6 separate regions of the Homo sapiens genome follow, and regions 1, 3, 4, 5 and 6 are each linked to region 2. The links come from fine-mapping of genetic effects on gene expression. A gene starts in region 2. Each other region holds a variant in brackets. All regions are shown on one strand. Distances are from middle to middle. Region 1 overlaps GNG7 (G protein subunit gamma 7). Region 2 holds the start of GNG7 (G protein subunit gamma 7). Region 3 overlaps GNG7 (G protein subunit gamma 7). Region 4 overlaps GNG7 (G protein subunit gamma 7). Region 5 overlaps GNG7 (G protein subunit gamma 7). Region 6 overlaps GNG7 (G protein subunit gamma 7).

Region 1 (5,071 bases), 58 kb before region 2:
TGTGCACCACCACGCCTGGCTAATTTCTGTATTTTTTGTAGAGATGGGGTTTCACCATGTTGCCTGGGCTGGTCTCAAACTCTCAGGCTCAAACGATCCTCCCCACTTCAGCCCCCCACTAGCAGGGACTACAGGTGCGTGCCACCATACCTGTCTAATTTTCTGTAGAGTTTAGGATATCGCTCTGTTGACCAGGCTGATCTCAAACTCCTGGGCTCAAGCCATCCTCCTGCCTTGGCCTCTCAAAGTGCTGGGATTACAGGCGTGAGCCATGGCGCCCGGCCAGAACTGAATGTTTGAAGAAGCCCAACACCAAACCTGTGGCAGCCCCAGGAAGCACCGGGAATGCATAGTCTGAGCCCTCTCCGGGCTCTGCACACCTTCCCGCCCTGCACCATGTGCACCGGAAATGCAGGAGACCTCTCCGGGCTCTGCACACCTTCTGGCCCTGCCGTCGGCACCCGAAATGCAAAGTCTGCGCCCTCTCCGGGCTCTACACACCTTCCCGCCCTGCACCATGTGCACCAGAAATGCAAAGTCTGAGCCCTCTCCGGGCTCTGCACACCTTTCCGCCTTGCGCCATTGGCACCGGAAATGCTAAGTCTGAGCCCTCTCCGGGCTCTGCACACCTTCCCACCCTGCACCATGTGCACCAGAAATGCAAAGTCGGAGACCTCTCCGGGCTCTGCACACCTTCCGGCCTTGCACTGTCCGCACTGGAAATGCAAAGTCTGAGCCTCTCCGGGCTCTGCACACCTTCCCGCCCTGCACCATGTGCACCGGAAATGCAAAGTCCGAGACCTCCCCGGACTCTGCACACCTTCCGGCCCGGCTCCGTCGGCACCGGAAATGCAAAGTCTGAGCCTCTCCGGGCTCTGCACACCTTCCGGCCCTGCACCATGTCCACTGGAAATGCAAAGTCCGAGACCTCTCCGGACTCTGCACACCTTCCGGCCCGGCTCCGTCGGCACCGGAAATGCAAAGTCTGAGCCTCTCCGGGCTCTGCACACCTTCCGGCCCTGCACCATGTCCACTGGAAATGCAAAGTCCGAGACCTCTCCGGACTCTGCACACCTTCCGGCCCGGCTCCGTCGGCACCGGAAATGCAAAGTCCGAGACCTCTCCGGGCTCTGCACACCTTCCAGCCCTGCGCCTCCTTTTTCGGGCTGAGCTTTTCTGTTGGTGTCACAGCTTCACTGGGGTGCAGTTACACACCCTGCGATGCACACTGGGCACGCTAATCTTCAAGCGCACATGGTTCTAAGGGTTGCCATTCATTTCTACAGCTATGCAACCATCAGCATAATCTCAATGGGACGCTGTCATCGACTCCCAGAGCTGCCCCGATCCCAACCCCCCAGCCTCCAGGCGACCTCTGATCTGTCACCTTTTCTAGAATTTTCCTGTAAGTGGAATTGTACAATATGAAGTCCTTTACATTTTTATGTTTGGCTTCATAAATAAATATTATACATATATTTTATATCTACACTTTTTGCATCTACACTTTATTTTATTTTATTATTTCTGAGATGGAGTCTCGCTCTGTCGCCCAGGCTGGAGTGCAGTGGCGCAATCTCAGCTCACTGCAACCTCCGTCTCCCGCGTTCAAGCAATCCTCCCACCTCAGCCCCCCAAGTAGCTGGGATTACAGGTGCCTAACACCACACCTGGCTAATTTTTGTATTTTTAGTAGAAACGGGGTTTCGCCATGTTGGCCAGGCTAGTCTCAAACTCCTGACCTCAGGTGATCCACCTGCCTTGGCCTCCCAAAGTGCTGGGATTACAGGTGTGAGCCACTGCACCCGGCCTACACTTTATATATATATATATATATATATATATATATATATATATATATATATATATATAATGCTCTATCTATACATGCATCATGTTATTGAGATGTAATTCATATGACATACAGTGCACCCATTTAAAATGCATAATTCTTTCTGAGTATTATCTGCGGCACCAAAAAGAAGAAAAAAATCATAAAATAAAAAGAAAACGCACAATTCAATGGCATTTAGTACATTCAGAGTCCTGCAACCATCACCACTAATTCCAGAACATTCTAATTATGCCAAGAAGAAGAAACCCATCAACCATCACTTCCCATGCCCCTCCCAGTCTCGGCACCCACGCATCCCCTCCCTGCCTCTGTGGATCGGCCCGTCCTGAACCTTTTGTAGAAAGGGGATCACATGCTGTGTGGCCTTTTGTGTCTGGCATCTCTTACTGAGCGTGACGTCCTCAAGGTACATCCACACTGTGGCCTGTGTCAAAGCTTCATTCCTTTTCATGGCTGAGTAACACTCCATGGTGTGGATGGAGGATGTTCTGCTGATCCATTCACCCATTGATGGACATTTGGAGTCTTTGCCTTATTGCTAAATTTGAACATATTCTTGACTTTTGAGTACATCTGTTTCTGAATTACCTCTCATGACCATTGACTACTAAGGATGAGACCAAAATGATTTATACTGGGCTTAGCTAAAATATGCATTTTTAAGGTACACATTACATGCCATAAAATTCAAGTGAAGTGTACTGCTCAAAGATACTTCAGGGCCGGGTGCAATGGTACGCACCTGTAATCCTGGCACTTTGGGAAGTCAAAGCAGGAAGATCACTTGAGCCACGGAGTTCAAGACCAGCCTGGGCAACAAAGCAAACCCTAACTCTTTTCTGTTTTTCTTTCTTTCTTTCTTTTCTCTCTCTCTCTCT[C/CT]TTTTTTTTTTTTTTAGAAGGAGTTTCGCTCTGTCACCCAGGCTGGAGCGCAGTGGCATGATCTTGGCTCACTGCAACCACCATCTCCCAGGCTCAAGTGATTCTCGCACCTCAGCCTCCCGAGTAGCTTGGACTCTAGGCACCTGCCACCACGCCTGGCTGATTTTCCTATTTTTAGTAGAGATGGGGTTTCACCATGTTGGTCAGGCTGGTCTGGAACTCCTGACCTCAGGTGATCCACCCATCTCGGCCTCCCAAAGTGCTGGGATTACAGGCATGAGCCACCATGCCTGGCCAAAACCCTAACTCTTAAAAAAAAATTTTGTTTTAAGATTTTTAAGTAAGTTCACCAGGTTGCGGTCACCCCGACCCGACCATCGGGTCCATTTCCACGTCCCTGGCAAGTCTCTGGTGCACATTCATGTCCCCAGCCTCCAATCACCACGAGTCCCTTTCTGTCCCTATGGCTTTGCCTTTTCTGGACATTTCTGCCTTCCTTTCTACTTATTTTTAAATGGTTTCCTCTTCCTACATTTTAAAAGCCACTCATGATTCTCTAGGGAGAAAAACGAGGAGTAAATCAACAGAGGAGAGCTAAAGGGCCAGCGACGGGTCACTCTCCAGGTGCACAGGAGATACGGGTGAAGGCTCCTTAAAACTCCCTACCATGGCACGAAGACACCGGAAAGGCATGCAGCACCGCTGTGGGCTTCCCACCCTGACCCCATCCAGGGGCTCCGGCACCAGCAGGACCAGTGAGTGCCACGTTCCCTGCCTCGTGGGCGGGAAACTCTGCCAGGAGCTAGCAGCTGTTACCCACACCTGCTCCCCATTACCCATACTTGGTGGATACAAACAGCCGACAGACCCAGGTCAAGGCCAAGACGCCCGCCTTGACGGCAACCCCACGTCTTACATCCAGGGTGCAAAACAGCCAACTGAACCTCAAATCATAACAAAGAAATGCATTACAGCACCGACCTGTGCAGGAGGTCTCGCCGTCTGCAGCACCGAGATCCCGAAACCAAGCTCCACTCCCTGGAAAAAACACATAGAGTTAGTTTGGCGTGGCTTGGCTGGAGGCACCATGCATGTGTTGATGGGGTCAGCATTGGAGAACGGCCTCGCGCTTGTGATTGGACAAGGACAGAAATCATTTTGGCAACCAGGCGCGGTGGCTTAGGCCTGTAATCCCAGCACTTTGGGAGGCCAAGGCAGGTGGATCATGAGGTCAGAAGTTCGAGACCAGCCTGGCCAACATGGCAAAATCCCGTCTCTACTAAAAATATAAAAATTAGCCAACGTGGTGGTGGGTGCCTGTAGTCCCAGCTACTTAGGAGGCTGAGGCAGGAGAATCCCTTGAACCCGGGAGGCAGAGGGTGCAGTGAGCTGAGATCGAGCCACTGTCCTCCAGCCTGGGCAACAGGGCAAGACTCTGCTTCAAAAAAAAAAATAATAGAAAAGGAAAAAAGCAGAAGACAATTCACTGAAAATATTTATTATTAGAGATTTATGACGTTATTCCTAATACATTTTCCACGTGTTTGAAAACTGAACTGAGTGCAAGGATTGATGTTTCTACGGCTCTTCACAGTTTATCAAAAACATCTCTGTACATCTTTGGAGCCTCACGATCTCCCTGGGAGGAAGAAGAAGGGGCTGAGTTAGTCCCACGGTGCCCAGAAGGCACCCAACGTATCCAGGTCTGCCCAGGACTTTTCCAGAGTTAGCCTGAAAGTCCTGCATCCTGGGAAGTCCCTCAGCCCCAGCTCAGCTGGTACGGGCAGTCTCTGAGCAGAACCAGGCTGGCACCACATGCCTGAGGCTGCGACCAGGAACTCCCCACCTCGGGGGACTCGGGGGGACCCTGCCACCATCACTGACAGGACAAGCTCCAGGGCCAAAGCTGTTCCTGCAAACACCGTGGTTTATATGAAATCCTTGCCTCCCTCTGGAGCCTGGAATCCTGGCATGGGTCAGGCAGCAGGGGCAGCAGAACCAGCCCCCATAGGAACGTGGGTGCTGGGTCTCTGGGAGCCTCGCTGGTGACAGTGCTTTGGGCTGTTGTCCCAGCTCGCTGCTGGGGATGTGGCGTGTCCCGCGTGACACATGGGGAGAGGGCCTGGAAGCTGGGCCTAGAAGCCGGGCCTGGCCTCCCCGACCCACCCCACGAGCCTTTCCCTTCCCAAACTCTGCTCTGTGCTCCATGTCCTCTTGCTGGGACAAACCACAGTCACAAGGAGGCCTCATGCGGAGTCCAGGGTCCTCCCAGCGAGTCGCCCCATCTCTACAAAATGACCCCATCTTGACAAAAAAAATTTAAAAATTAGGAGGGTGT
Region 2 (5,071 bases):
TTTTTAAAGCTTCTGGGGGTGACCCTGATGTGTGCTCCTAAGGTTGCAGGACTAGAGTCAAGTTCCAGTCACTTCCTTTCCTCTCCTCTGTGACAACCCAGTCATCCCACTCCTCCATCTCCAAACCCACCAAAGAAAAAAACTGGATTGAGTCCATTATTCTCCATGCTTCAGGTACCCTCACTATATGCTAGGAAATAGTCCATGCATACATCCCGTAATTCGACCCTGAGAGGCACATGCTACTGTTTTTATTATTCCCGCTTTGCAGGGGAGTAAACAACACCTCCAAAAGATGATACAGCCAAATCCGCAGCGAGAGGCTGGGTCGGAACACACACAGGCGCACCTCCCAGAGGCCCCCGACACTCCATCAAGGCAAGATCGCAGCATCCCACGACGGGAACAAGTTTGTGAACTTGGCATTTGCCTCGCTGACACCTAGCAACCGTGTGAAGACGCTTAGCTGGGGATCCGCTGCCTCTGTTCATCAAGCCTGTCTTCCACCGCCCACCTCCCAACCCCTAGCAACCCCCGCTCCCCAGGAAAAATAAAGTGCCACCCACGTCGCTCAATAGCACCGTCCCAAAAACTCCCACTTTAGTTCCTGAAAAATTCAGTCACCGACAGGAGCCTTTCTCCTTCCTGAAGCGTTCTCCTTGGCACCCTATATCCTAGAAATAAACCTCAAAAAGTATTCCGAACTCCCGTCTCCTTCAACTCACTGTTCCCCAGGGGGTTCTGCCCCGTGCCCAGTTCTAGAGCAAACAATTAACATCTCCCCCAAAAGTAGAGGGGTGAGTCCTCTCCAAATTCCTTTTAACTGGATCCTACCTGAGACACCTCCCCACACCCCGTTTTCCTCCTGATTAGTCAATGTCTAGCAAAACACCTGCCCCCAGGTGTCTCCAGCCTGGGACCTTACCCCCACCTCCCTTCTCACTAACTCACCCCAACTTCCTTCTCCCTGAACCCCCTTCCACCCCACACACTCACAAGCTCCCCATTTCCCCTGATAGCCCCCAGACCCTTTCTGGAACAAGCCTGACCCCCACCTGTATGCTCCAGCCACTCCCTGGCTCACCCCAGCTTTGTCCTTCTGCCCCTTTTCAGCTAACCCTAACCCCTGGGCCGTCAATCACACCCCCCCATCTTCACCAACCCCATTCCTCAGTCCTCTCCCCAGACAACCTCAACATCTAATTCCCTCTGCAGCCCCCTCTCCAATGAACCCCACTTCAAACTCCATCCCCAGCCCCCTCTCCAGCTCCCTGCAAACCTCAACCCCACTCCCAGCTCCCTCTTCAAAGAAGCTGCACCCTTGACTCAACCCCTGTTCCCCGCTCCAATTAACCTCAACCCCCAACACCATCCCCAGCGTCCTCCCCAGCTAACTCAGATTTCCAATTCCACTTCCAGCCCCCTCCCCAGCTAACCTCGACCTACAATTCCAGCCCCCTCCCCAGCTAGCTTGGACCTCCAATCCCACTCCAAGCCCCCTCGGCAGCTAACCTCGACCTGCGACTCTAGCCCCCTCCCCAGCAAACTCAAGACCTCCAATTCCACCACCAGCCCCTTCCTAGCTAACCTGGACCTGCAATTCCAGACCCCTCCCCAGCCAACTCAGACCTCCAATCCCGCTCCAAGCTCCCTCCCCAGCTAACCTCGACCTGCAACTCCAGTCCCCTCCCCAGATAACTCAGACCTCCAGTCTCACCCCCAGCCCCCTCCTCAGCTAACTCAGACCTCCAATCCCACCTCCAGCCCCCTCCCCAGCTAACCTGGACCTGCAACTCCAGCCTCCTCCCCAGCTGGCCCTGATTTCTAAGTGGAGTCCCAATGCCCAGACCCAATCCTTCCCCAGCTAACCTCGATCTGCACCCCCTGCCCCGTCCCCAGCTAACCTCGACCTGCAACTCCCGCCCCCTCCCCAGCTAGCCCTGAGCCCCAAGTGCAGTCCCAATCCCCAACCCCAGCCCCTCCCCAGCTAACTTCGACCCCCTAAGCGCAGCCCCGTCCCCAATTCCAACCCCAGCCTCCAGTTGCAGCCCGGGTCCCCAGACCCAGCCCCCCTCCTCAGCCGACTCCGACCCCCAACTCGGTCCGCAGCCGAATCCGAGCTGTCCCAGTCCCCTCTCCGGGACGCCGGCCGCGCCCTCACTTCCCCTGGCCCGGTTCGCGGGCGCCCTTACCTGCGCTCGGGCCCCGCGGCCGCCTCAGCCCCGCCGCGCAGCCGAACCCTCCGCCCCGGCCCGCGAGCGCTCGCTCCCCTCTGCGGGGGCGGGGCCGACACTCGGGGGGCGGGCCCTGGCGTCCCGGCAAGGCCAATCGCGAGCCCCGGCTGCGGGAGGCCGGAGCGGGGGCGGGGCGCGGGGCAGGCAGCGGGGTAGGCTGCGCCCAGGAGAGTGGGGCGGGGCTCCGGGCGCGGGCGGGGCCGGGGGCGGGGCGAAGAGCGGCTTTCCAGGGTGACTTCGTGACGTCAGGAAGGCGCGAGTAGTTTCGCGAGTTCGAATCCCGCGCTAGGTGAGCTGGTTCGAATCCTGCATGCCAGCTCCGGGGGCTCATTTGCTGGGGAAGAATGTCAGTGATCATAACTGCTGCACCGCTTTCTTGAAGACTTTATAGGCTCCCTCTCGTGGGACCCTCCGCATAAGGCCAGAAGGCGAGATTACTATCCACATTTTACAGAGGTGGAAACTGGGTCTCAGAAAGGTGAAACCTAAGGTCATTTGCCCAAGCCTGTCTCATCATTTCCAAGATTTCTCAGTTTCCTAACTCATGGCCCTGGATCCACAAATTCCTGAGCCCCAACACAGATGGAATGAACCAGAATCCTATAGGGAACTGGACCCTGAAATCTGTGTTTTGTTTAGTTTTCGTTTTGTTTTTGAGACAGGGTATCACTCAATTGCCGTGGCTGGACTGCAGTGGTGCAGTCATAGCTCACTGCAGCTTTGAAGTCCCAGGCTCAAGCAGTCCTTCCACCTCAGCCTTCCGGGTAGCTGGGGCCACAGGCACGCACCACCACATCCAGCTAATTTTTGTATTATTAGTAGAGACAGGGTTTCACCGTTTTGGCCAGGCTGGTCTCCAACTCCTGACCTCAGGTGATCCACCTTTCTTGGCCTCCCATAGTGCTGGGATTACAGGCGTGAGCCACCGTGCCTGGCCCTGGCTAATTTTTTTTTGTTAGAGATGGGGTCTTGCTATGTTGCCCAAACTGGTCTTGAACTCCTGGGCTCAAGTGATTCTCCTGCCTCTGCCTCCCAAAATGCTTGGATTACAGGCCTGGAATCTTCATTTTCCACAAGCTCCCTTGGGAATATTGGAAAACACTTTGTATGTCTCCAAAAGCAGTACACAGCCCTGGAAGGAAGATGGAGCCACCATATTCTGTGACCTCAGGGATTTCATCAGGCGCTGACACTGTGTGTCCTTGCCGCCCCACCTGAGCCCTGGGATTGGAGCTGCTGGCCAAAATCCAAGATAAACTTCCCCAGGGTTCCTGTCATCCCTGCAAGAACCTCCCTGCTCATCCTCTGGACTCCAGTGGCCTGCCCTGCAGGGCACAGAGAAACCTCCATCTCCCTGCTTGCCCTCCTCCAGGCTCTCCCCAGCTGGCATCCCCCAAGAGGAATGACTGTCTAGATAGAGCTTGGGAAGGGCACGGTGGCTCACGACTGTATTCCCAGCACTTTGGGAGGCTGAAGCGGGAGGATCGCTTGAGCCCAGGAGTTCAAGACCAGCCTGGCAACATACTGAGACCGCAACTCTACAAAAAAATTAAAATATTAGCCAGGCCTGGCGGCGCACACCAGTAGTCCCAGCTACTTCGGAGGCGAAAGCAGGAGGATCGCTTGAGCTTAGGAGGTTGAGGCTGCAGTGAGCTTTGATCACACCACTGCACTCCAGCCTGGGCGATAGAGTGAGACTCTGTCTCAAAAAAAAAAAAAAAAAGTGTTAAATACACAATGCAATATGATTCGGCCATAACAAAGAATAAAACCCTGTCATTTGCAGCAAAATGGATGGGACTGGAGGTCATTATATTAAGTGAAAAAGTGAAATAAGCCAGACACAGGAAGACAAATAGGGCATGTTGTCACTGATACGTGGGAACCAGAGAGTTGATCTCATGGAGGTAGAGAGTAGAATGATCAATACCAGAGGCTGGAAAGTTGTGTAGGTTGAGTGGGGGGGAAATGAAAAGAGGTGAGTTATGAGTACAAACATTCAGTTAGACAGAAGGAATACATTCTAATGTTTGATAGCAGAATAGGATGTATTCTGCTATCAAATATAGTATTAGAATAAATTCTAATGTTTGATAGCAGAATAGGGTGACTGTAGTTAGCAACAATGTATTGTACATTTCAAAATAGTTAGAATAATGGTGGCTTACGCCTCTAATCCAAACACTTTGGGAAGCCAAGGTAGGAGAATCCCTTGAGGGCAGGAGTTCGAGACCAGCTTGGGCAACATAGCGAGGCTTCATCTCTATTTAATTATTATTATTATTATTATTTTCTTTTTTGTGTGTGTGAGATGGAATTTCGCTCTTGTTGCCCAGGCTGGCATGCAATGACGTGACGTCAGCTCACCACAACCTCCGCCTCCCGGGTTCAAGCGATTCTCCTGCCTCAGCCTCCTGAGTAGCTGGGACTACAGGAACGTCCCACCACGCCAAGCTTATTTTTTAGTACAGACGGGGTTTCACCGTGTTAGCCAGAATGGGCTCGATCTCCGGACCTCGTGATCTGCCCATCTCGGCCTCCCAAAGTGCTGGGATTACAGGCGCCCACCCGGACACAGTGGCTCACGCCTGTAATCCCAGCACTTTGGGAGGCCAAGGCGGGTGGATCACCTGAGGTCAGGAGTTTGAGACCAGCCTGACCAACATGGAGAAACCCCGTCTCTACTGAAAATACAAAATTAGCCGGGTGTGGTGGCACATGCCTGTAATCCCAGCTACTCGGGAGGCTGAGGCAGGAGAATGGCTTGAACCCAGGAGGCAGAGGTTGTGGTGAGCCGAGGTCGTGCCATTGCACTCCAGCCTGGGCAACAAGAGCGA
Region 3 (5,071 bases), 24 kb before region 2:
TTATAAGACGAGGGAAATTTGGACACAGACCCACACAGGGAAGGGGGCCGTGTGAGGATGGAGGCAGAGACTGGAGCGATGTCACCAGCCCAGGGGCGCCAAGAACCGCCGGCCACTTGCCAGATGCTGGAAGAGGCAGGAAGGATCCTCCCCGGGAGCTTCTGGGCCGGGAACGGCCCTGCCCACACCTTCGTCTCAGACTTCTGGCTTCTAGAACTGCCAGAAAATCCATTTCTGTGGTTTTGAGCCATGCAGGTTGAAGTCATTTTCCATGGGCGCCCTCAAATATCCAAACTTCACCCCACAGAGACCCTCCCCTAGGCACCCACATCCTGGCATGTTCAGACACCCTCCTCGTGAACATGCACAGCCCCCAAGGCACCAGATAGACATTGATTTCCATCTAGAAGTGTCCGTCAAACCCTCAGCGATATATCTCTGCCGCCCAGGCTAGAGTGCAGTGGCACAGTCTCAGCTCACTGCAACCTCCACCGCCTGGCTCAAGCGATCCTCCCACCTCAGCCTCCCAAGGAACTGGGACCACAGGCGCGCACCATCATGCTTGCCTAATTTTTGTTTTCGCTTTCTGTAGAGATGGGGTTTCACCATGTTGCCCAAGCTGGTGTCAAACTCCCAGATTCAAGTGATCCTCCCGCCTCGGCCTCCCATAGTCCTGGGATTACAGGTGTGAGGCATCGCGCCCAGCCTCTTTGGTGGTTTTCAGGAACAGCTAGTTAGTTATTCTGCAGATGGAGGTTCAGGAGCTTGCACCACTTCCTAGACCCGGCTGGAGGAGTTGGGTGTAATTTTCAGCCGGGCGGGTGCAAGACTCAAAGAGATGTGTGGCAGAGAGAAGCTGTTCAGACAGCTTCTGGGGTTGCCAGGAAGAAACAAGCCACTTGCTCCGATCTGCACATTCCCTCCCTGTCCAGGGCTGATTTCCACCCAGGCAGGACTCCCGATTCCCAGAGAATCTCAAAGCAAGGCATTCTCCTGGCCGTGATCCGGCTCTCAGCTCTAAAGGGACTCCATATCTTTACTGCAGACCCAAATCTGTGTCACCACAGAGGAAAAACGGCCGCTTAATTACACTTGCATATATGCTCGCAAGAATTCTTCCAGGGAGCAGGATCTGGGAACGTCCTCTGGAGACAGGGCCTTCCAGGAGACGCTGAGCTCGGTGTTGGAGCATGGAGGCTGAATCTAATCCATCAACAGGATGCCACAGGGGAGCAGAGAATTCCATTTTTTTTTTTTTGCTTCAATTCCTTTCTATACAACCGTGGTTCTCAACCAGGGGTCCTTCTGGTCCCCAGGGGATGCTAGGTGGTGTCTGGGGGCATTTGTGACTGTTATGACTCAGGGATGCTCCTGGCGTGGAGTGGGTGGAGGCCAGGGATGCTGATCAGAACCTTGCAGTGGCCAGGACAACCCCACCCCAGAGAACGACCCAGCCCTGAATGCCAAGGGGGAGAGACTCTGCCTTAATTATTTGGAAAAATATTGTATCTGCTCCCTGTTGACACCAGACACTAGAAAAAATTCCCGATGGGGTGGATGGCAGAAACCAAGGGGGGCCCCAGCTCCTGCGATTCTCCTCCTCTCTCCCTCCCCACTCAGGGTGTGGATTACAATGTGTGCAGCCTCCTGGAACCTCAGGAGGACAGAGGATCATGAGACACAGAGTTTCTTGGGGATCTGTGGAATCCCCTAACCCCCGGGGGTCTCACCTGGGGGTGATTCTGCCCCCCATGGGGCACTGGGCAATGTCTGGGGACATCTTTGGTTGTCACAACTCGGGGTGTCCCTGGCATAGAGTGGGTGGAGGCCAGGGACGCTGCTCAGCACCCTACAGTGCCCAGGATGGCCCCACCTCAGAGAACGATCTGGCCCCAAGGTCCACAGTGACAGAGAGTGATAACCGCTGCCATAATCTATAGGACTGACCATAGCCACATGCATATGGTCACACAAACATGAGTGTGACTGTCCCTCTGACTCAAAGGACAAAGCCAGTCCCAACCTTTCTAACCCTGCCACCTGTGCTGACCACCAGTGGCCTCTGTGTGGATGTTAGTTAGGGTTCAGCAGCCTTAGGAAAACAGAACACCAGGCATCCAGACCTTCCACTGTGGCCCTGAGTGGAAGAGGAGGTGGCGGTGGCCGACGCCAACACTGTCACAGCAAGAAACAAGAGAGTGGGTGTGACTGTGGTCACTTCCATCTCAGGGCACATGCTACATTGAGGAAGTAAAACCTGGGGGGAGCGAGATATACAAGAAGTGAAAGGTGACTTGTAGAATGTTCTGGAATCTTCCAGAAGCTTCTGGAAACTTCCAGAATTTTCTGAAATATAGTAGGTATTGTGGCATAGCAAGGCTTTGGATTCAGAAGCTGCTGGGCTTGGGCACGGAGTCAAAAAAGTAACAGAGGAAAAGCCACGGAATGCAAACTTCCAGGGATGACATGGTTGCCACACAGTGGGCAGGTGGGTCACACCCACTGTACACAGGTCACACTTGGCTCTTTGAACTCAGTCACCTATTATGGGTGGAGGAACCAAATCCTGGGATGGGGTAATAAATGCATACGGTTTCAGTTTCCCCATCCACAACACAGGGAGAAGAATCAGATAAGGTGTCCAGTCTCGGAGGGTCCTGGGCAGCAGGCAGCGCCTCCAAGATCATCACCTCCAACCCTGATTCTGCCAAGCCCCAGCCTGGTAACTACTTCTCTCAAGGGGTCCCAGCTCTCAGAGCTAGGAGTGGCCTTCAACGCCAGGTCTACACCCCATGCCAACAGAATCCCTTCCCTGACCTTTGCA[C/G]CAGCCAACCCATCCTCCGTCATGCAGCCTTCGACGATCGGAAACCAACAGCTTCTCATGACGGTCCCTCCGATTTCCAGACAAGCCTGATTCTTAAGCCAGCCCAGCCAAGCTACAGCTCCTATCCCATCTCCCCAAGAACAGACTTCATCGTTTTCTGAATTTGGTCCACGCCCATGGTGTCCGTGAGGAAAAATAACAACATAAGTAACATATAGTACAATGCTAATTTTTTGAGACGGGATCTTGCTGTTGCCCAGGCTGGAATGCAGTGGTGCAATCATAGCTCACTGCAGCCTCAACTTCCTAGGCTTCCAAGCAATCCTCCTGCCTCAGCCTCCCAAGCAGCTGGGACCACAGGTGTGCACCACCATATCTGGCTAATTTTTAATAAATTTTGTAGAGATAGAGTCTCACTATGTTGCTCAGGCTGGTCTCGAACTCCAGGGCTCAAGCAATCCTCCCACCTAAGCCTCCCAAAGTGCTGGAATTACAGGTGTGAGCCACCACACCCAGCCAATACTAATATTTATACATAATATATTGAATAATATTAGCAGTGATTCCAGCAATAACAGTGATAACCAGGACCACCACCCATCCAGGTCACAGCCTCGTAGTCCATCCCAATCTTTTCAATGACCCTAGGGAGTGATTCCTATCCTGTCTGACACACAAGGAAACAGAAAGGTTCCATGTTTTCTTCAAAATTCACACAGAAAGAAAGTCACATGGTGGCTAAGTAGGCATTCTAAATCCAATGCCTCACCATGCCTACATTCCAGAAAACTCTAGAAGGCTCTGGGAGTTTCTAGAAGGTTCCAGAAGATTCCAGAACCCTCCATGATTCGCCACCTTTCACTTTTTACATATCCTATTCCCCCAGGTCCCACTTCCTCAAAGCAGGACAGAATTTTCAACCCCTTGCATTCCCATCTGCATCTTCACCTTACTCATTGTATTAACTCCAGGCACCAGGTAGCACCTTCCTAAATTACCTGGGCTTGGCAAGACCTAAATCAAAGACATGACCTGCTCAGTAGTCCCAGATGTGAAGAAACTCAAAATCCAATGCCAGAATCCCTTAAAACAGAACCAGTCAGTGTCCACAGCTCTATTAGGCTTGACCCACAGTGGAGAAAGATGAGAAACCCACAGGGAGAAAAACAGGACCGTCTTCTTACAGTCTAAGACTGTCAGCCAGGCACGGCAGCTCACGCCTGTAACCCCAGCATCTTGGGAGACCGAGGAGGGAGGATCGCTTAAGCCCAGGAGTTCGAGCAGCCTGGGCATCATAGTAAGACCTTGTCTCTTTTTTTTTTTTTTTTTTTTTGAGACAGAGTCTCGCTCTGTTGCCCAGGCTGGAGTGCAGTTGTGCGATCTCGGCTCACCACAACCTCCACCTCCCAGGTTCAAGTGATTCTCTCTGCCTTAGCCTCCCCGAGTAACTGGGATAACAGGCACCCGCCACCATGCCTGGCCAATTTTAGTATTTTTAGTAGAGATGTGGTTTCACCATCTTGGCCAGGCTGGTCTCAAACTCCTGACCTCAGGTGATCCACCCGCCTCGGTCTCCCAAAGTGCTGGGATTACAGGCATGAGCCACCTTGCCCAGCCACCTGTCTCTATTTTTTAAAAAATTAAAACATTTTAAAATTAAAAATTAAAAGCTCTGAAAAGTGACCACATAGACTAACAGTGGGTTTTTTAGTAAAATACACTTAACACAAAATTTACAATTTTTTTTTTTTTTTTTTTTTGAGATGGAGTTTCCCTCTTGTTGCCCAGGCTGGAATGCAATGGTGAGATCTCAGCCCACTGCAACCTCCGCCTCCTGGGTTCAAGAGATTCTCCTGCCTCAGCCTCCTAAGTAGCTAGGATTACAGGCATGCATCACCACGCCTGGCTAATTTTGTATTTTAGTAGAGGCGGGGTTTCTCCATGTTGGTCAGGCTGGTCTTGAACTCCCGACTTCATTCGTTTCTTTTTTGAGACAGGGTCTTGCTCTGTTGCTCAGGCTGGAGTGCGGTGGTGTGATCACAGCTCACTGCAACCTTCGTCTCCCGAGCTCGCATGAGGGTCCCCATGTCCTACCTCCCCGTGAGCCCTTGTGATTGTTTGTTGTTCTGGTTTTTTAATTCTAGCCATCTTACTGGGCGTGAAGTGGTATCTCACCATGGCTCTGATTTGCATTTCCCTGAGGACTGACGCGGAGCATGTTTTGAAGTGAAACCGACAGTTTTTGTT
Region 4 (5,071 bases), 180 kb before region 2:
ACCAGCTTCCGGGCCTGGGCTATGTTGTTAGTGGCTGACATTGTCTGCCATCAGCTCTGGGCCCCGTTGTTCAGAGAGCTGTGGGGGAAGCAGAGGGGTGTGGGTCAAAGTTCAGGTCAGGCCTCTGGGTGGCAGCAGGGGCGCCCGGCCTTGGCTCAACCTTCCCGACTCTAGGCACGGCCACTTTGCCTCTGGGTGGGGACCAGGGGCCTCCGTGTACAAAGAGCTGGCACTCGTTTAACTCTCAGCATAGAGCCTGGCACGCGGTCAGCCGTCACAATCCTCTGTGGGAGTTTGCAGAACGAGAGAATGAAAGGGCGAAGGCAGGCTGGGCGTGGTGGCTCACGCCTGTAATCCCAGCACTTTGGGAGGCTGAGGCAGGTGGATCATGAGGTCAGGAGATCGAGACCATCCTGGCTAACACGGTGAAACCTCATCGTTACTAAAAAAAAAAAAAAAAATACAAAAATTAGCCAGGCATGGTGGTGGGTGCCTATAGTCCCAGCTACTCTGGAGGCTGAGGCAGGAGAATGACGTGAACCCGGGAGGTGGAGCTTGCAGTGAGCCGAGATGGTGCCCCTGCACTCCAGCCTGGACGACAGAGCAAGACTCCGTCTCAAAAAAAAAAATAAAGAAAAAATAAAGAAAGGGCAAAGGCAATAGGCCAGGCCCTCTGGAGAAGGGAGGACCCACGCAGGCTCCCGGGTGGCCTGCCTCAGTCCATGGCAGGGGTTCTTGCCCTCCAGGGGACACTGGGTGATATCTGGGGACATCTGTGGCTGTGGGGGGTGCTCCTGGCATGGAGTGGGTTGGGTGGAGGCCAGGGACATTGCTCAGCTCCCTGCAGTGCCCCGGACGGCCCCACGCCAGGGAAGGATCCGAACGCGATATCCATAGTACCCAGGGGAGACCCTGGGTCAGGGCAGGGATCACAGCAGAACCCCTGGTGACTGTCCCCCTCCGTGTTTTTTTTTTTTTTTTTTTGAGACAGAGTCTTGCTCTGTTGCCCAGGCTGGAGTGCAGTGGTGTGATCTCGGCTCACTGCAACCTCTGCCTCCCGGGTTCAAGCGATTCTCCTGCCTCAGCCTCCCGAGTAGCTGGGATTACAGGCACGTGCCACCACACCCGGCTAATTTTTGTATTTTTAGTACAGACAGCGTTTCACCATGTTGGCCAGGCTGGTCTTGAACTCCTGACCTCAGGTGATCCACCCTCCTCGGCCTCTCAAAGTGCTGGGATGACAGGTGTGAGCCCGGCCTCTCCTCCGTGTCCTTCATATTGAACCAGTCAGGAGCCCATGCTGTTGCTTCTTGAATTCTCCTGGAAAAACCCAGGACCTCAACAGGGCAGACGATCACAGGACGCAGAGTCTCTTGGGAGTCCGTGGAATCCCCAGATCTCATCTGGGGATGACTCTGCCCTCCATGGAGCACTGGGTGATGTCTGGGACATTTGTGGCTGTCATGACTTGGGGGTGCTCCTGGCAGGGAGTGGGTGGAGGCCACGGATGCTGCTCAGCACCCTGCAGTGCCCAGGACGGCCCCGCTCCAGGGAACGATCCAGCCCCACGTGTCAGTAGTGTCCAGCCTAGAGAAACCTGCTTCGTAGGACCCAGTGAGGGGGTTGGTGCTGATGGGGGTGGCAGGGGCAGGGGCCAGGTTCAAGAGTCCTGGGCAGCCGCAGTCCCAGCCGGGCGTCTGTGAGCAGTTAATTAAGCCGCACCCTGTCTCTGTCATAACTCATGGCATCGCTGTCTGTTTTGCAGAGCCAGGCAGCCGCAGAGAAGTCAAGGCAGATTCCAGAGTTCTCAAAAAATGCCTACTTAGTGATAAGAAGGAAAGGACTGGCCGGGCGCGGTGGCTCACGCCTGTAATCCCAGCACTTTGGGAGGCCGAGGCGGGCGGGTCACAAGGTCAGGAGATCAAGACCATCCTGGCTAACACGGTGAAACCCCGTCTCCCGGGCGTGGTGGCGGGTGCCTGTAGTCCCAGCTACTCGGGAGGCTGAGGCAGGAGAATGGGGTGAACCCGGAAGGCGGAGCTTGCAGTGAGCAGAGATCACGCCACTGCACTCCAGCCTGGGGGACAGAGTGAGACTCTGTCTCAAAAAAAAAAAAAAAAAAAAAAAAAAAAGAAGGAAAGGACCATCCATGCATACCACACCGCAGGGGAATCTCCAGGGCCTGGGATGTGTAGCATGCTTCTGTTTGTGTAATGTGTTTAAGAGGACTTTTTTTAGACAGAGTCTCGCTCTGTTGCCCAGGCTGGAGTGCAGTGGCATGATCTCAGCTCACTGCAAGCTCCGCTTCTCCAGCTCCAGCGATACTCTCACTTCTGCCTCCTGAGTAGCTGGGATTACAGGTGCATGTGCCACCATGCCTGGCTAATCTTTGTATTTTTGGTAGAGACATGGTTTTACCATGTTGGCCAGGCTGGTCTCAAACTCCTGGCCTCAAGTGATCTGCCTGTCTCGACCTCCCAAAGTGCTGGGATTACAGGCATGAGCCACCATGCCCGGCCCAAGGACGAAATTTTAGAAATGGAGAACAGATTAGCGGCTGCCAGGGATCAGGGAGGGGCAGGGGCTGGGAGGGAGATAGGTCTCTGTATAAAAGGGCAACACAGCCAGGCATGGTGGCTCTTGCCTGTAATACCAGCACTTTGGGAGGCTGAGATGCGAGGATCACTTGAGTCCAGGAGTTTGAGGCCAGCCTAGGCAACATAGCAAGACCCCCTCTCTACAAAAAATTAGAAAATTAGCTGGGCATGGGTAGCGCACTCCTGTGGTCCCAGCTACTTGGGAGGCTGAGGTGGGAGGATCACTTGAGCCTGGGAGGTTGAGGCCAGACTGGGCAATTTAGTGAGACCCCATCTCTGAATAAATAATAAAAGGGCAACACGAATGATCCCTGTTAGTGCCTCAACTACGGTGATGAATCCACAAGCCTACATGAGTGATAAACTCACAGAGAGCCTC[A/G]CACACTCACACACCAGCGGGCACAATACTGAATACTGTGGAACCTGAGTGAGGCTGGTGGGTGTGTGACTGTCTGGCTGCGATCCTGCCCATAGCTTTACCAAATGTTACCACCAGGGACGGCCGGGGAATGACACACAGAATTCCTCTACATTCTTTGTTAGCACTGGCTGTGACTCCACGGCGATCTCAATAAAAGGGGCAATTAAACAAAAAATCCCTTTGACACCGCCCAGCCTCCTTGGTTTCCAGCAGACGTCCCACCCCCACTTTTTGGGGGCAGAGAAGGCCCAATCTGTCTGCTCTGGAGGCAGAGCCCACGTGTGGCCGCTCAGAGGGCTCTGATTCCAGAGAGCTTCAAAGCAGCCACAAAACATCCAACTCAGGGAAAACCGCCCTTGGTTGGGCTTAAAAATACCTAAATTACTCAGTGCTAAAAATACGTGCACGCAGAGAACAAACGGGCTGGCCGCACCTCCTGTTTTCCTTGGAAGGCCAGGGGGTCCTATTTAGCATCCACAGTCAGGAGTGTCCACCCAGACCCTGGGCCCCTGCTGCCCTGGGCAGCCACCGCCCGCAATTTCCATGTGAGCATCAGGTCCTGAGCCGTGCTGGCTTTTCTGTTTTGGGCGAAATTCCCTGCGAGATGCTGCCTTTGGGCTGGGTAATAACCCAGGCCTGCCAGGAAGGCCAGAGAGGACTGCGCTGTGTGTGTGTGTCTATGTTTATTTGCATGTATGTCAATGATGCACATGTGACTGTACACGTGTGTACACGTGGTGTGCATGTCAGTGTGCACATGTGTATGTGTGTGCACATGTGCATGTATGTGTACCTTGCGTGTGCATGTATGTGTGTATGTGTATACTGGCATTCATGAGTGTGCATATATGCGTGTGTGCACACATATCTGCATGTGTATGTGTACCTGCATATGCATGGGTGTGCACGTCAGCATGCATATGAGTGTGCATCCTTGCATGTGTGTACATGTGCATGTGTCTATATGAGTGCATGTACACATCTACGTGTGTGCGTCTGCATATGAGTGTGTGCATAGGTGCATTTGCATACGTGCATGTGTGTGGACATGCATGCCAGTGTGCACGTGTGTATGTGCACGTGTGTGGACACGGCACTGCATGTGCGTGTGCGCACACGTGTGTGGGCATGCATGTCACTATGGGTGTGTGCATGCGTGTTGGCGTGTGTGTACGTCACTGTAGGTGCGTGGATATGTGCGTGCGTGGGTGTGTACATGTGTCTGCATGTGTACATGCGTGTGCGTGTGTGTGCGCACGGGAGTGCATGTGGATGCTTGGGCTGAGATGCCGAGACTCAGACACAGATTGCATCACCCATGCAGTCGCCTCCCTAAGTCCCCGTCTCGGTGGTGTCACCAGCCGGCACTGACTCAGGAGCAGCCATGCCCCCAGCAGAGGACTAAGCCAACAGCAGCAGAACTGGCCACGCACTGAGTCAGCCAGGAACGCCCCTCCCAACTGCCTCCCTGCAGAGGCGCACGGGTGCCGGGCACCCCGACCTGAATGAGCTTGCCTCGGGGCCCGTGGCCCGGGGAAGCTGTGGGAGGGGCGGGAGCAGGCAGCTCCGGGGGCAGGGCCAGGTGGTCAAAGGTGCACACAGTCCCCACGGCTCCCTCCTGACGGTCGGGCTCTGCCTCGGTGCACAGGCTCCTGCAGGCAGGCAAGGCTCCAGGCCAGGCTCTCCAAAAATAAAACTGAAGAGGGACGCCGCCCGGCCCCGCGCTGGCCTCCTAGCAAAAGGCTCATAGCCACACCCGAGTCTAAGCCCGCCTCGTGCAGAAAAATCCCACTCGCGCCTGAAAGTCAAGAAGGATGAGGGTACCCCCCCACTCCAGGACATAGTGGAAATCTGTGGTCGCTCAGGGAAGGGTGACCAGCCCCGAAACAGAGCAGACCTGAGCTGATCAGACACGAGGCTCCAGTGCACAGAAGGGCTGAACAAAACCGCAGGACAGGAGCTGGCAGCACCGGCAGGGAGGGAGGTGGGACCACAGGGACCCCCAGGGAGCAGCCGCCCTCTAACCCCTTGCTCCGGCAGTTATCCCGAGGGC
Region 5 (5,071 bases), 39 kb before region 2:
TGGAGAAACCCTGTCTCTACTAAAAATACAAAATTAGCCGGGCGTGGTGGTGCATGCCTGTAATCCCAGCTACTAGAGAGGCTGAGACAGGAGAATTACTTGAACCTGGGAGGCGGAGGTTGCAGTGAGCCAAGATCGTGCCACTGCACTCCAGCCTGGGCAACAAGAGCAAAACTCTGTCTCAAAAAAAAAAAAAAGAAAAGGAAAGAAAGAAAGAAAAGAAAGAAAGAAAGAAAGAAAGAAAAGAAAGAAAGAAAGAAAGAAAGAAAGAAAGAGAAAGAAAGAAAGAAAGAAAGAAAGAAAGAAAGAAAGAAAGAAAGAAAGAAAGAAAGAAATGGGCCCTCCAGGCTGGGCACAGTGGCTCATGCCTATAATCCCAGCACTCTGGGAGGCCAAGGTTGGGGCAGGTCATTTGAGATCAGGAATTTGAGACCAGCCTGGCCAACACAGTGAAACCCTATCTCTACTAAAAAAAAATATAAAAATTAGCCAGTAATTGGCTAATTACTGTAATTATGCCTGTAATCTCAGCTACTCGGGAGGCTGAGGCAGAAGAATTGCATGAATCCAAGAGGCAGAGGTTGCAGTGAGCCAAGATTGTGCCACTGCACTCTAGCCTGGCTGACAAAGTGAGACTCCATTAAAAAAAAAAAAAAAAAAAAAGGAAGGAAGGAAGGAAAAAAGGAAAGAAGGAAGGAACGACTCATTTGGGCATTTTGCCCTCCTGTCAAGGCCAGTTGGAAGCTGAGGCCTCCACCAACAGCCACATGAGGGCGCCCTCTTGAAAGCAGCTCCTCCAGCTCCAATCGAGCCTTCAGATGATACAGCCCCAGCACATTCACTGCCAGAATCACCCAGTGGAGCTGCTTCCTAACTCCTGAGTGAGGGTGGAAAAAACTCAAACTCAAATTGCTTTTCCTCTTGCTCTCACATCAACAGCAATCAACATGGCCAGGTGCAGTGGCTCACGCCTGTAATCCCAGCACTTTCAGAGGCCAAGGCAGGTGGATCACTTAAGATCAGGAGTTTGAGACCAGCGTGACCAACACGGTGAAACCCTGTCTCTACCAAAAATACAAAAATTAGCCAGGCGTGGTTGTGGGCACCTGTAATCTCAGCTACTCAGGAGGCTGAGGCAGGAGAATCACTTGAACCTGGGGGGCGGAGGCTGCAGTGAGCAGAGATTGCACCATTGCACTCCAGTCTGGGCGACAGAGCGAGACTCCATCTCAAAAAAAAAAAAAAAAAAAAATCAACCCAAGATATTTCTGTGACCAAATGTGAGAGGAGTTTCCCCACACACCAGCTAGCTGTCCCCTAATTCGATTCAGTTCAATTCAATTCAGGTGCTATCTACCTGGAGACAGCCTTGGACCCCACAGGTTGAGGGCTAAATCCCCCCACAAGACTGCCCCTAACCTCTTCAGATACCAGTAGCAAGTTTGGGCCTCCAGAACTTCCAACTGACCAGCTTGAAGTTAGGGTTGGGTTTAATTTACTACAGCAGCTCTCGGAATTCAGGGAAACACATTTACTGGTTTAATATAAAGCATATTACAAAGAATACAGACGAAAAGATGCATAGGATGAGGTATAGGGAAGAAGGGCAAAGCTTCCTTGGCATGCTACCCTTCAGGAACCTCCATGTGCTCAGCTATCTCAAAGTTCTCCAAACCCCGTCCTTTTGAAGTTTTATGGAGGCTTTACTTCATAGGCATGACTGATCGCGTCACTGGCCACTGGTCATCACCTCAACCTTCAGCCCTTCTCCCCTCCCCAGAGGCTGGAGGGTACAGCTAAAGGTTCCAGCCCTCTCATCCTGCCTTGATCTTTCTGGTGGCCAGACCATTCCTGAAAATAACTAGAAGCTGTCAGCCATCAGTCGACTTATCATCATACAAAAAGACATGACTTTGCAGATTCCAAGGATTTTAGGAGTTCTGCACCAGAAAAAAATCAGGACAAAGACCAAATAATATAATAAATATAATGCAAGTAATATAATATCCCACTGACCCACAGAAACTGCAGGATAGTAAATGCTTGCTGTTTAAGCTAAGTGTTGGGGTAATTTGTTACACAGTGATAGATAACTGGTACATCTGCAAAGGGAAGGAAGGGCTGATCCACATGACTCCTCCAAGCAGATGTTGCTATAGTTTGAATGTGTCTCCCAAAAAGCATATTGTAGAAACTTTAATTCCCAATGCCACCATGTTGAGAGGTGAGAACTTTAAGAGGTGATTAGGTTATGAAGGCCCTACCCTCATTAATGCCATCTCTCTTTCTCTCTCCCTCTCACCCTTTCTCTCTCTCTCCCCCCCCTCCTCTTTCTTCCCCAGTTCCCCAATCTTTCATATATGTGCTCTTTTGCCCTTCCACCTCTGACGCAGCAAGAAGGCCCTCACCAGATGCCAGCACCTCGACATTGGACTTCCCAGTCCCTAGAACCGTTAAGAAACAAATCTCTATTATTTATAAATTATCCAGTCTATGGCATTCCATTATAGCAGCACAAAATAAAGACAGGTGTGTAGTCAAACATTACCTTTTCCTAAAAGCCAGCAATTGGATTTTTCATTTTCTTGTTTTTCCAATATCTATCAACCTGATAATTGGGAGAGATGCAAAAGCCCAGATGGATAAGGTACATTCACTGAGGGCAAATCAGAAGAATGACCAGGCCAAGAAAATGATTCATTTTGGCATTTTGCAAATTATCAAGATATGCATGCCAGCACCAGTTTTTAAAACTGAACAAATCCACTGGCTTTTATCTATTTCCTACTAAAGCAACGTGGCTTGATCTTGACACTATTAAA[C/T]TGGGGCTTGATTATTCTCTGGGGTGGGGCCGTTCTGGGCACTGCACAGTGCTGAGTAGCATCCCTGGTCTCCACCTACTCCAGGCCAGGAGCACCCCCAAGTCACGGTACCCACAAATGTCCCCAGACATTACCAGTGTCCCCCAGGGGGCAGGCTTGCCCCCAGTTGAGACCCAATGCTCTAAGGCATGTCCCTCAAGGGCAGGACAGCCAGGGACCTGACATTTGATGACAGGCCTATCCTCCACCGCCCCCCAGGCCCGGCTGCACTTCCTCCTCTGGGAACTGAGTGGGCAGGACGGGCTGTCAGAGCCCCCTTCCCTTCCCACGCTGACATTCTGCCAGCACGTGGCAGGGGCGTCTTGTCTCGTTGGAGGCTGGATATAGAAACACAGCCCTGTCCTTTGTGCCATCGCTGAAGTTGTCAACCTCAGCCTTCACTCATCACCACAGCAACCATCTAAATATGTCACCAGCAAAGTGCTGATTGCAAAGGAAGGGGGCAGAGAGGCCTGGACGGGCTCTCACCCAGGTGCAGGCGCAGGGGAGGTGCCGGGACTGGGGGAGTGACGTGGCTGCTTCAGAGCCACGAGACTGATGACGGCCAGGCCGGGCGTGACCTGGAACAGGCTCCACTGCACCCTGGGGCACACAGAACAAAGGGGCAGGCCTGCTTGACCCTGAGGGTTCAAGGTCTCTGTGAGCCGAGGTCAAGGAGGGGGAAGGAACAATCAGACGGTTGGCTCTGTGTCCTGCACCCTCAGTGCTCTAGAGACCCTCCTCACCCAGTCCTCTAGGTCACTCTGGGAGGATGGCCCCGGCTGACACCGTCTGCCCCATCGGGAATCTATTCTGGTGTCTACTGTGAGCAGGGAGCAAACTCATTTTTTTGCCAGTTAATGCAAGGTCTCTCCCCTGGAAACCGTGGACATTCAGAGCTGGGTCATTCTCTAGGGTGCAGCTGTCCCGGACACTGCAGGGTGCTGAGCAGTGTCCCTGGCCTCCACCCACTCCACGCCACGACCATCCTCAAGTTGTGACAACGACAAATGTCCTCAGACAACACCCAGTGTCCCCTGGGGCAGAATCACCCTCAGTTGACACCCCCTGAATTAGGAAATTCCACGGACCCCCAAGATACTCTGTCCCCTGATCTTCTGTCCTGCTGAGGTCCCAGGAGGCTGCACACATTGAAATCCACACCTTTAGTTGGGGGGAGGGAGAGAGGAGGTGAATCCCACGAGCTGGGGTCCCCTGGTTTACACCGTCTGCCCCATCAGGAGTGTGTCCTGGTGAGCAGGAAGCAGACTCCATTTCTTCTCCAAATAATGAATGCTGAGTCTCTCCTCCCAGGCACGGTGGACACTGGGGCTGTACCATTCTCTGGGATGGAGCCGTCCTGAGCACTGCAGCACGCTGAGCGGCATCCGTGACCTCCAGCCACTGCATGCCCGGAGCACTTCTCAATGGTGACAGCCACAAATGTCCCCAGACATGGCCCAGTGTCCCCTGGGGGGGGGGGGGCAGGATCACCCTGCCGTGCTGGACAGTCCTCGCCACACCCCACCTCTTGGAACTGGAATGTCTGGTGAGACGGGCAACAAGGATTTGGGAAGAGGGCCATGCGGGACAAAAAAAAGAAAGAAAATGAGAACGAACGGATTTCTATTTCCCCTCAATGTGAAAATAGCTCCACTGAGTCCCGAGGAAGGATTGGGTGGGGACGTACGCTCTGGTATGGCCAAGGTGGAGTGCTGGACAAGAGCTACTCCATTCTGACTTCACGACTCGCTGTCTGGCTGGGTGACCTTCAGTCCCTTGCCACTGTCGCTGTGCCTCAGTTTCCCACTCTGTAGAATGCACATCGAAGCAGCATCCACCCTGTGAGACTGGTTTTGGAGATTACATAAATGAGTATCTATAAAATGTTTAAAGTGGTGTCTGAGCCATGGGTCATGGCACATACTGGCTTTATTATTTAGAACCTGGATTACCTCCTTTTATTATTCTTTTTCAATTTATTTTACTTATTTTTTGAGATGGAGTCTTGCTCTGTCATCCAGGCTAGAGTGCAGTGGTGCGAACTTGGCTCACTGCCTCTGCCTCCCGGGTTCAAGTGATTCTCCTGCCTCAGTCCCCCATATAGCCAGTATTAGAGGCGCCCGCCACCACGCCCAGCTAATTTTTGTATTTTTAGTAGAGACAGGGTTTCACCATGTTGGTCAGGCTGGTCTCGAACTCCTGACCTC
Region 6 (5,071 bases), 31 kb before region 2:
GAAAATATTTACTCTCTGGCTCTTTACAGAAGAGGTCTGTTGATGGCTGGGTGCAGCGGCTCATGCCTGTTATCCCAGCACTTTGGGAGGCTGAGGCGGGAGGATCACTTGAGGCCAGGAGTTTAAGACCAGCCTGGCCAACACGGTGAAACCCCGTCTCTACTAAAAATACAAAAATTAGCCAGGCGTGGTGGCGGGTACCTATAATCCCAGCTACTCGGGAGGCTGAGGCATGAGAATCACTTGAACTCGGGAGGTAGAGGTTGCAGTGAGCTGAGATCGCGCCAATGCACTCCAGACTGGGTGACAGAGCGAGACTCTGTCTCAAAAAAAAAAAAAAAAGAAAGAAAAAGAAAAGGTGTGTGGACACCTCACAAGACAGAGCCCCAGAGCCCTACATCATTACTTCAAGGCCTCTGACTGTTTTCTTTTGAAACTCTCTGTCTCTCTCTCTCTCTGAGTGCTCCGTTAATATTTTGTTGGAGGAACAAAAACAGCAGGGTCAGCCTCCTCAGGGGGTGAAATAAGCTCTGTCTGGTGCAGCCTGGTTCTGGCCACGGAGACCCACCCTCCCCTCAGCCTGGCTCCAGAGGAAGGAGCACCAGTGGGGATAGACCCACCCCACTGTCGGGGGAGCAGAGACTGGCAGCAGGCCTGCCTCTGAGGCCCCCGCGGGAGCCGTGCTGTCACCTCGACCCCGCTGTCACGGGGGACAGAGCTGAGGCCTGCGCTCCCAGCGCCGGTGTCTGCAGGCACACAGGTCACCCTGACTCCACAAAGTCAGCCCTGCAGCCTCCAGACGGTCAGACTTGCTGAGCTAGGACGGCCACTGCGTCCCATGTGGCTTGTTTTCCCAGACCCTGAGCTGCCTCGGGCATGGCTGTGTGACGGGTGTGGAGATTCACAGAGCACCCTATTCTCTGAGGGTCACTTTGGTCCAGGGTCTCCTCCCCTAGGCACTGCTGAGGCACTGGGGCTGGAGTGTTCTCTCGGGCGGGGCTGTGCTGGGCACTGCAGGGTACTGAGCAGCATCCCTGGCCTGCACCCACTCCATGCCAGGAGCCCTCGCCCCGCCCCCCACAAGTTGTGACAACCACAATGTCCCAGACTTTACCAGGTGTCCCCTGGGGGACAGAATCATCCACCATTGACACCCCCTGGGTTACAGATTCCAAGGACCACCCCTCCCACAAAGAGACGGCGTCCCATGATCCTCTGCCCTGCTGAGGTCCCAGGAGGCTGCACATATTGATATCCCCACCCTGAGTGGGGAGGGAGAGAGGGGGTGAATCCCAGGAGCTGGGGGTCCCCCTGATTTTGGGAGTTTATTCTGGTGTCTGGTGTGAGCAGGGAGCAGACTCGATATTTTTCCAAATAATTAAAGCAGGGTCTCTCCCCCTTGGAATTCAAGGATGGATCGTTCTCTGTGGTCACCCTGGGCACGGCAGGGTGCTGAGCAGCATCCTTGGCCTCCACCCAGTCCATGCCAGGAGCTGCCCCTCTCTTAACTGTGACGACCACAAATCAGTACCCAACTATGTTTAAAACTCTCCAGCTGATCTCAGACAACCCACCTTCCACCAACTCCCAGCAGCTCAGGAGCCTTTCTGATGACCACCCTGGCAGTTGCAGGAAGGCCGAGGACCACCCCGGATCCCCCTGGACACCGGTGGCTCTGAGCCTCGACCTGGCCAGCACCAGCCAAAAGGACCAACCCTCCAAGTGCTGACGAACGAGGTGAATGAGGCTCAAGGTGACGTTGTCCGGCCTGCCTTCTGCCTCACACGCTTCCCCCAGCTTCAGCCGCCTCCCCGAGACCCGAGAGCTGGGGAGGAGCCAGGCAGGGGAACGTTCGTCCTGGCTGAGCTCCGAGGCCATGTCCAGGGGTCATGAATTTGAGGTCAGCCCTGAGGCGGGAAGGTGACGGGTAGCATGCGGAGCCCCAGAGAGACAACACCTGGCCCATTCAAAGGGCATCAGGCACCGCTCCTGCCCCAGTGGGTGTGAAGCCCAATGTCATCAGCTCCTCCAACTACTCTGAGAAGCTGGGAGATGTTCTATTGTAAAATCTCCTGATTTTTAGTTTCATTTTATTTTATTTTATTTTTTTTTAAGATGGAGTCTCTGGGAGGCCGAGGCGGGTGGATCACGAGGTCAGCAGATCGAGACCATCCTGGCTAACACAGTGAAACCTCGTCTCTACTAAAAATACAAAAAATTAGCCGGGCGTGGCAGTGGGCACCTGTAGTCCCAGCTACTCGGGAGGCTGAGGCAGGAGAATGGCATGAACCCGGGAGGTGGAGCTTGCAGTGAGCCGAGATTGCGTCACTGCCCTCCAGCCTGGGTGACAGAGTGAGACTCCGTCTCAAAAAAAAAAAAAAAAAAAGATGGAGTCTCGCTCTCTCACCCAGTGGCGCAGTCTCAGCTCACTGCAACTGCTGCCTGCCAGGTTCAAGCAATTCTCCTGCCTCAGCCTCCCGAGTAGCTGGGACCACAGGCACCTG[C/A]CACCATACCCAGCTAATTGTATTTTCAGTAGAGACAGGGTTTTGCCATGTGGGCCAGGCTAACCTCAAGTCATCCTCCTGCCTCAGCCTCCCAAAGCACTGGGATTGCAGGCGTGAGCCACTGCACCTGGCCTATTTTTAAATATTTTGTAGAGATGGGGTCTCACTGTGTTGCCCAGGGTGGTCTAGAACTCCCAGCCTCAAGCAATCCTCCTGCTTCAGCCTCCCAAAGTGTTGGAATTACAGGTGTGACGCCCGATTTTTTTTTTTTTCTTTTGAGACAGAGTCTCACTCTGTCATCCAGGCTGGAGTGCAGTGGTGCGATCTCAGCTCGCTGCAAACCCTGCCTCCCATGTTGAAGCAATTCTCCTGCCTCAGCCTCCTGAGTAGCTGGGATTACAAGTGTGTGTCACCACACCGGCTAATTTTTGTATTTTTAGTAGAGATAGGGTTTCACCATGTTGGCCAGCTTGGTCTCAAACTCCTGGCCTCAAGTGATTTGCCCGCCTCGACCTCCCAAAGTGCTGGGATTACAGGTGTGAGCCACCGCGCCTGGTCTGTGACCCCTGATTTTTAAATGCTGGCAATAATTCAAAGTTTAAAGCCACTGGGTTCTACCTTGGCCAGGTGACCAATGTCAACACCACCAGTGTGGACGTCACGTGCCCCTGATGTGTTCTCCCCAGAGCCCTGAACCCCAGACTATTCAAGAGCAAACATCATGGAAACTCACGTTGGGGGACATTTTACAAAACTCCTGACGAGTCCTCCTCAAAACCACTAGGTTGGCCGGGTGCGGTGGTTCATGCCTGTAATCCCAGCACTTTGGGAGGCCGAGGCGGGCAGATCACAAGGTCAGGAGATCGAGACCATCCTGGCTAACACGGTGAAACCCCGTCTCTACTAAACAATACAAAAAATTAGCTGGGCGTGGCAGCGGGCGCCTGTAGTCCCAGCTACTCAGGAGGGTGAGCCAGGAGAATGGCCGTGAACCCGGGAGGCGGAGCTTGCAGCGAGCTGAGATAGCACCACTGCACTCCAGCCTGGGTGACAGAGCGAGATTCCATCTCAAAAAAAAAACAAAACAAAACAAAACAAAACAAAAAAAAACCCAGCAGGTCATCAAAACCAATGAGTCTGAGAAGTGTCCCAGCAGAGTGTAAGGAGATGTCGGGAGTCAATGGCATGTGGGTTCCTGGAAAAAACAAGAAAATGGAAATAAAGACCGGGCGCCGTGGCTCACGCCTGTAATCCCAGCACTTTGGGAGGCCGAGGCGGGCGGCTCACCTGAGGTCAGGAATTCGAGACCAGCCTGGCCAACATGGTGAACCCCTGCCTCTATTAAAAATACAAAAATTAGCCGTGCAGGGTGGCAGGCACCTGAAATCCCAGCTACTTGGGAGGCTGAGGCAGGAGGATCATTTGAACCCAGGAGGTGGAGGTTGCAGTGAGCCAAGATCACACCACTGGCACTCCAGCCTGGGTGAAAGAGCGAGACTCCATCTAAAAAAAAAAAAAAAGAAAGAAAGAAAGAAAGAAAAATAAAATGTAAATAAAGTGTGGAGTTGAGTTCGTGATAATGTATGGATACTGGTCTTTTTAGAAAATTTCTTTCTTTCTTTTTTTAGAGAGAGGGCCTTGTACTGCTTTTGTATATTTTAAACATACAATTGTGTATATTTCCAATATATTTCAGAGTTTTCTTAGGATACATTTGTGATAATTTGTTACACAGAATTAGCTAACTAATATAGGCTGTTTCCAAAATTCAAAACTACCCTAAAAGAAATCTGAGGCCAGGGACCGTGGCTCACGCCTGTAATCCCAGCACTTTGGGAGGCCAAGGTGGGCGGATCACCCAAGGTCAGGAGTTTGAGACCAGCCTGGCCAACGTGGTGAAACCCCATCTCCACTAAAAATATAAAAACTAGCCAGGTGTAGTGGCACCTTGCCTATAATCCCAGCTACTCCAGAGGCTGAGGCAAAAGAATTGCCTGAACCTGGGAGCCAGAGGTTGCGGTGAGCCGAGATCACCCCACTGCACTCTAGCCTGAGCAACAGAGTGAGACTCCATCTCAAAAACAAAACAAACAAGAAAAAAGAATCTGAAATATAATGGAAATACACACAATTGTATGTTTGAAATATACAAAAGCAGTACAATCCACTCTTGAAGGGAATCAGAATCGTCACACTGCTGGGAAAAGGGCAAGGTCTCCAAAGGTGACTGGTGTTTTTGTTTTTTGTTTTTGTTTTGTTTTTTTTTGAGACAGAGTCTTGTTCCGTTGCCTAGGCTGGAGTGCAGTGGTGCAATCTCAGCTCGCTGCAACCTCCACCTCCTGGGCTCAAGCGATCCTCCTGCCTCAACCTCCCAAGTAGCTGGGATTACAGGCGCCCACAACCATGCCCGGCTAATTTTTGCATTTTTAGTAGAGACGAGTTTTTACCATGTTGGCCAGGCTGGTCTCGAACTCCTGACCTCAGGTGATCCACCCGCCTTGGCCTCCCACAGTGCTGGGATTACAGGCGTGAGCTACTGCGTCTGGCCTGCAAGGTGACTGTTTTAA

What was found. PIP is the estimated chance that this variant, and not a neighbour inherited with it, causes the effect.
Region 1: its variant is the best candidate, but not a certain one, in a credible set for the expression of GNG7 in whole blood (INTERVAL, PIP 0.54).
Region 3: its variant is the best candidate, but not a certain one, in a credible set for the expression of GNG7 in esophagus muscle (GTEx, PIP 0.50).
Region 4: its variant is the best candidate, but not a certain one, in a credible set for the expression of GNG7 in anterior cingulate cortex (GTEx, PIP 0.55).
Region 5: its variant is the best candidate, but not a certain one, in a credible set for the expression of GNG7 in whole blood (INTERVAL, PIP 0.58).
Region 6: its variant is the best candidate, but not a certain one, in a credible set for the expression of GNG7 in esophagus mucosa (GTEx, PIP 0.51).

Annotation. Positions count from the first base shown.
Region 1 is chr19:2,642,510-2,647,580 of GRCh38, forward strand. It overlaps GNG7 (G protein subunit gamma 7), which reads right to left. Exons shown (of 5, transcript NM_052847.3): 2 at 3,715-3,771. Among named protein-coding and RNA genes, the nearest start is that of MIR7850, 14 kb to the left of the region's middle. RefSeq lists an enhancer at 928-1,427. The variant C/CT (reference allele first, on the strand shown) is at 2,734.
Region 2 is chr19:2,700,454-2,705,524 of GRCh38, forward strand. GNG7 (G protein subunit gamma 7) reads right to left here and starts at 2,241. Exons shown (of 5, transcript NM_052847.3): 1 at 2,193-2,241. RefSeq lists a silencer at 2,137-2,526.
Region 3 is chr19:2,676,009-2,681,079 of GRCh38, forward strand. All of the region lies in intron 1 of GNG7 (G protein subunit gamma 7), which reads right to left. Among named protein-coding and RNA genes, the nearest start is that of GNG7, 24 kb to the right of the region's middle. RefSeq lists a silencer at 2,074-2,222. The variant C/G (reference allele first, on the strand shown) is at 2,825.
Region 4 is chr19:2,520,648-2,525,718 of GRCh38, forward strand. GNG7 (G protein subunit gamma 7) reads right to left here. Exons shown (of 5, transcript NM_052847.3): 4 at 1-78. The coding sequence starts at 41. Among named protein-coding and RNA genes, the nearest start is that of GADD45B, 47 kb to the left of the region's middle. The variant A/G (reference allele first, on the strand shown) is at 2,977.
Region 5 is chr19:2,661,029-2,666,099 of GRCh38, forward strand. All of the region lies in intron 1 of GNG7 (G protein subunit gamma 7), which reads right to left. Among named protein-coding and RNA genes, the nearest start is that of MIR7850, 33 kb to the left of the region's middle. The variant C/T (reference allele first, on the strand shown) is at 2,823.
Region 6 is chr19:2,669,684-2,674,754 of GRCh38, forward strand. The region is part of intron 1 of GNG7 (G protein subunit gamma 7); the gene reads right to left. Among named protein-coding and RNA genes, the nearest start is that of GNG7, 30 kb to the right of the region's middle. RefSeq lists a silencer at 639-839. The variant C/A (reference allele first, on the strand shown) is at 2,505.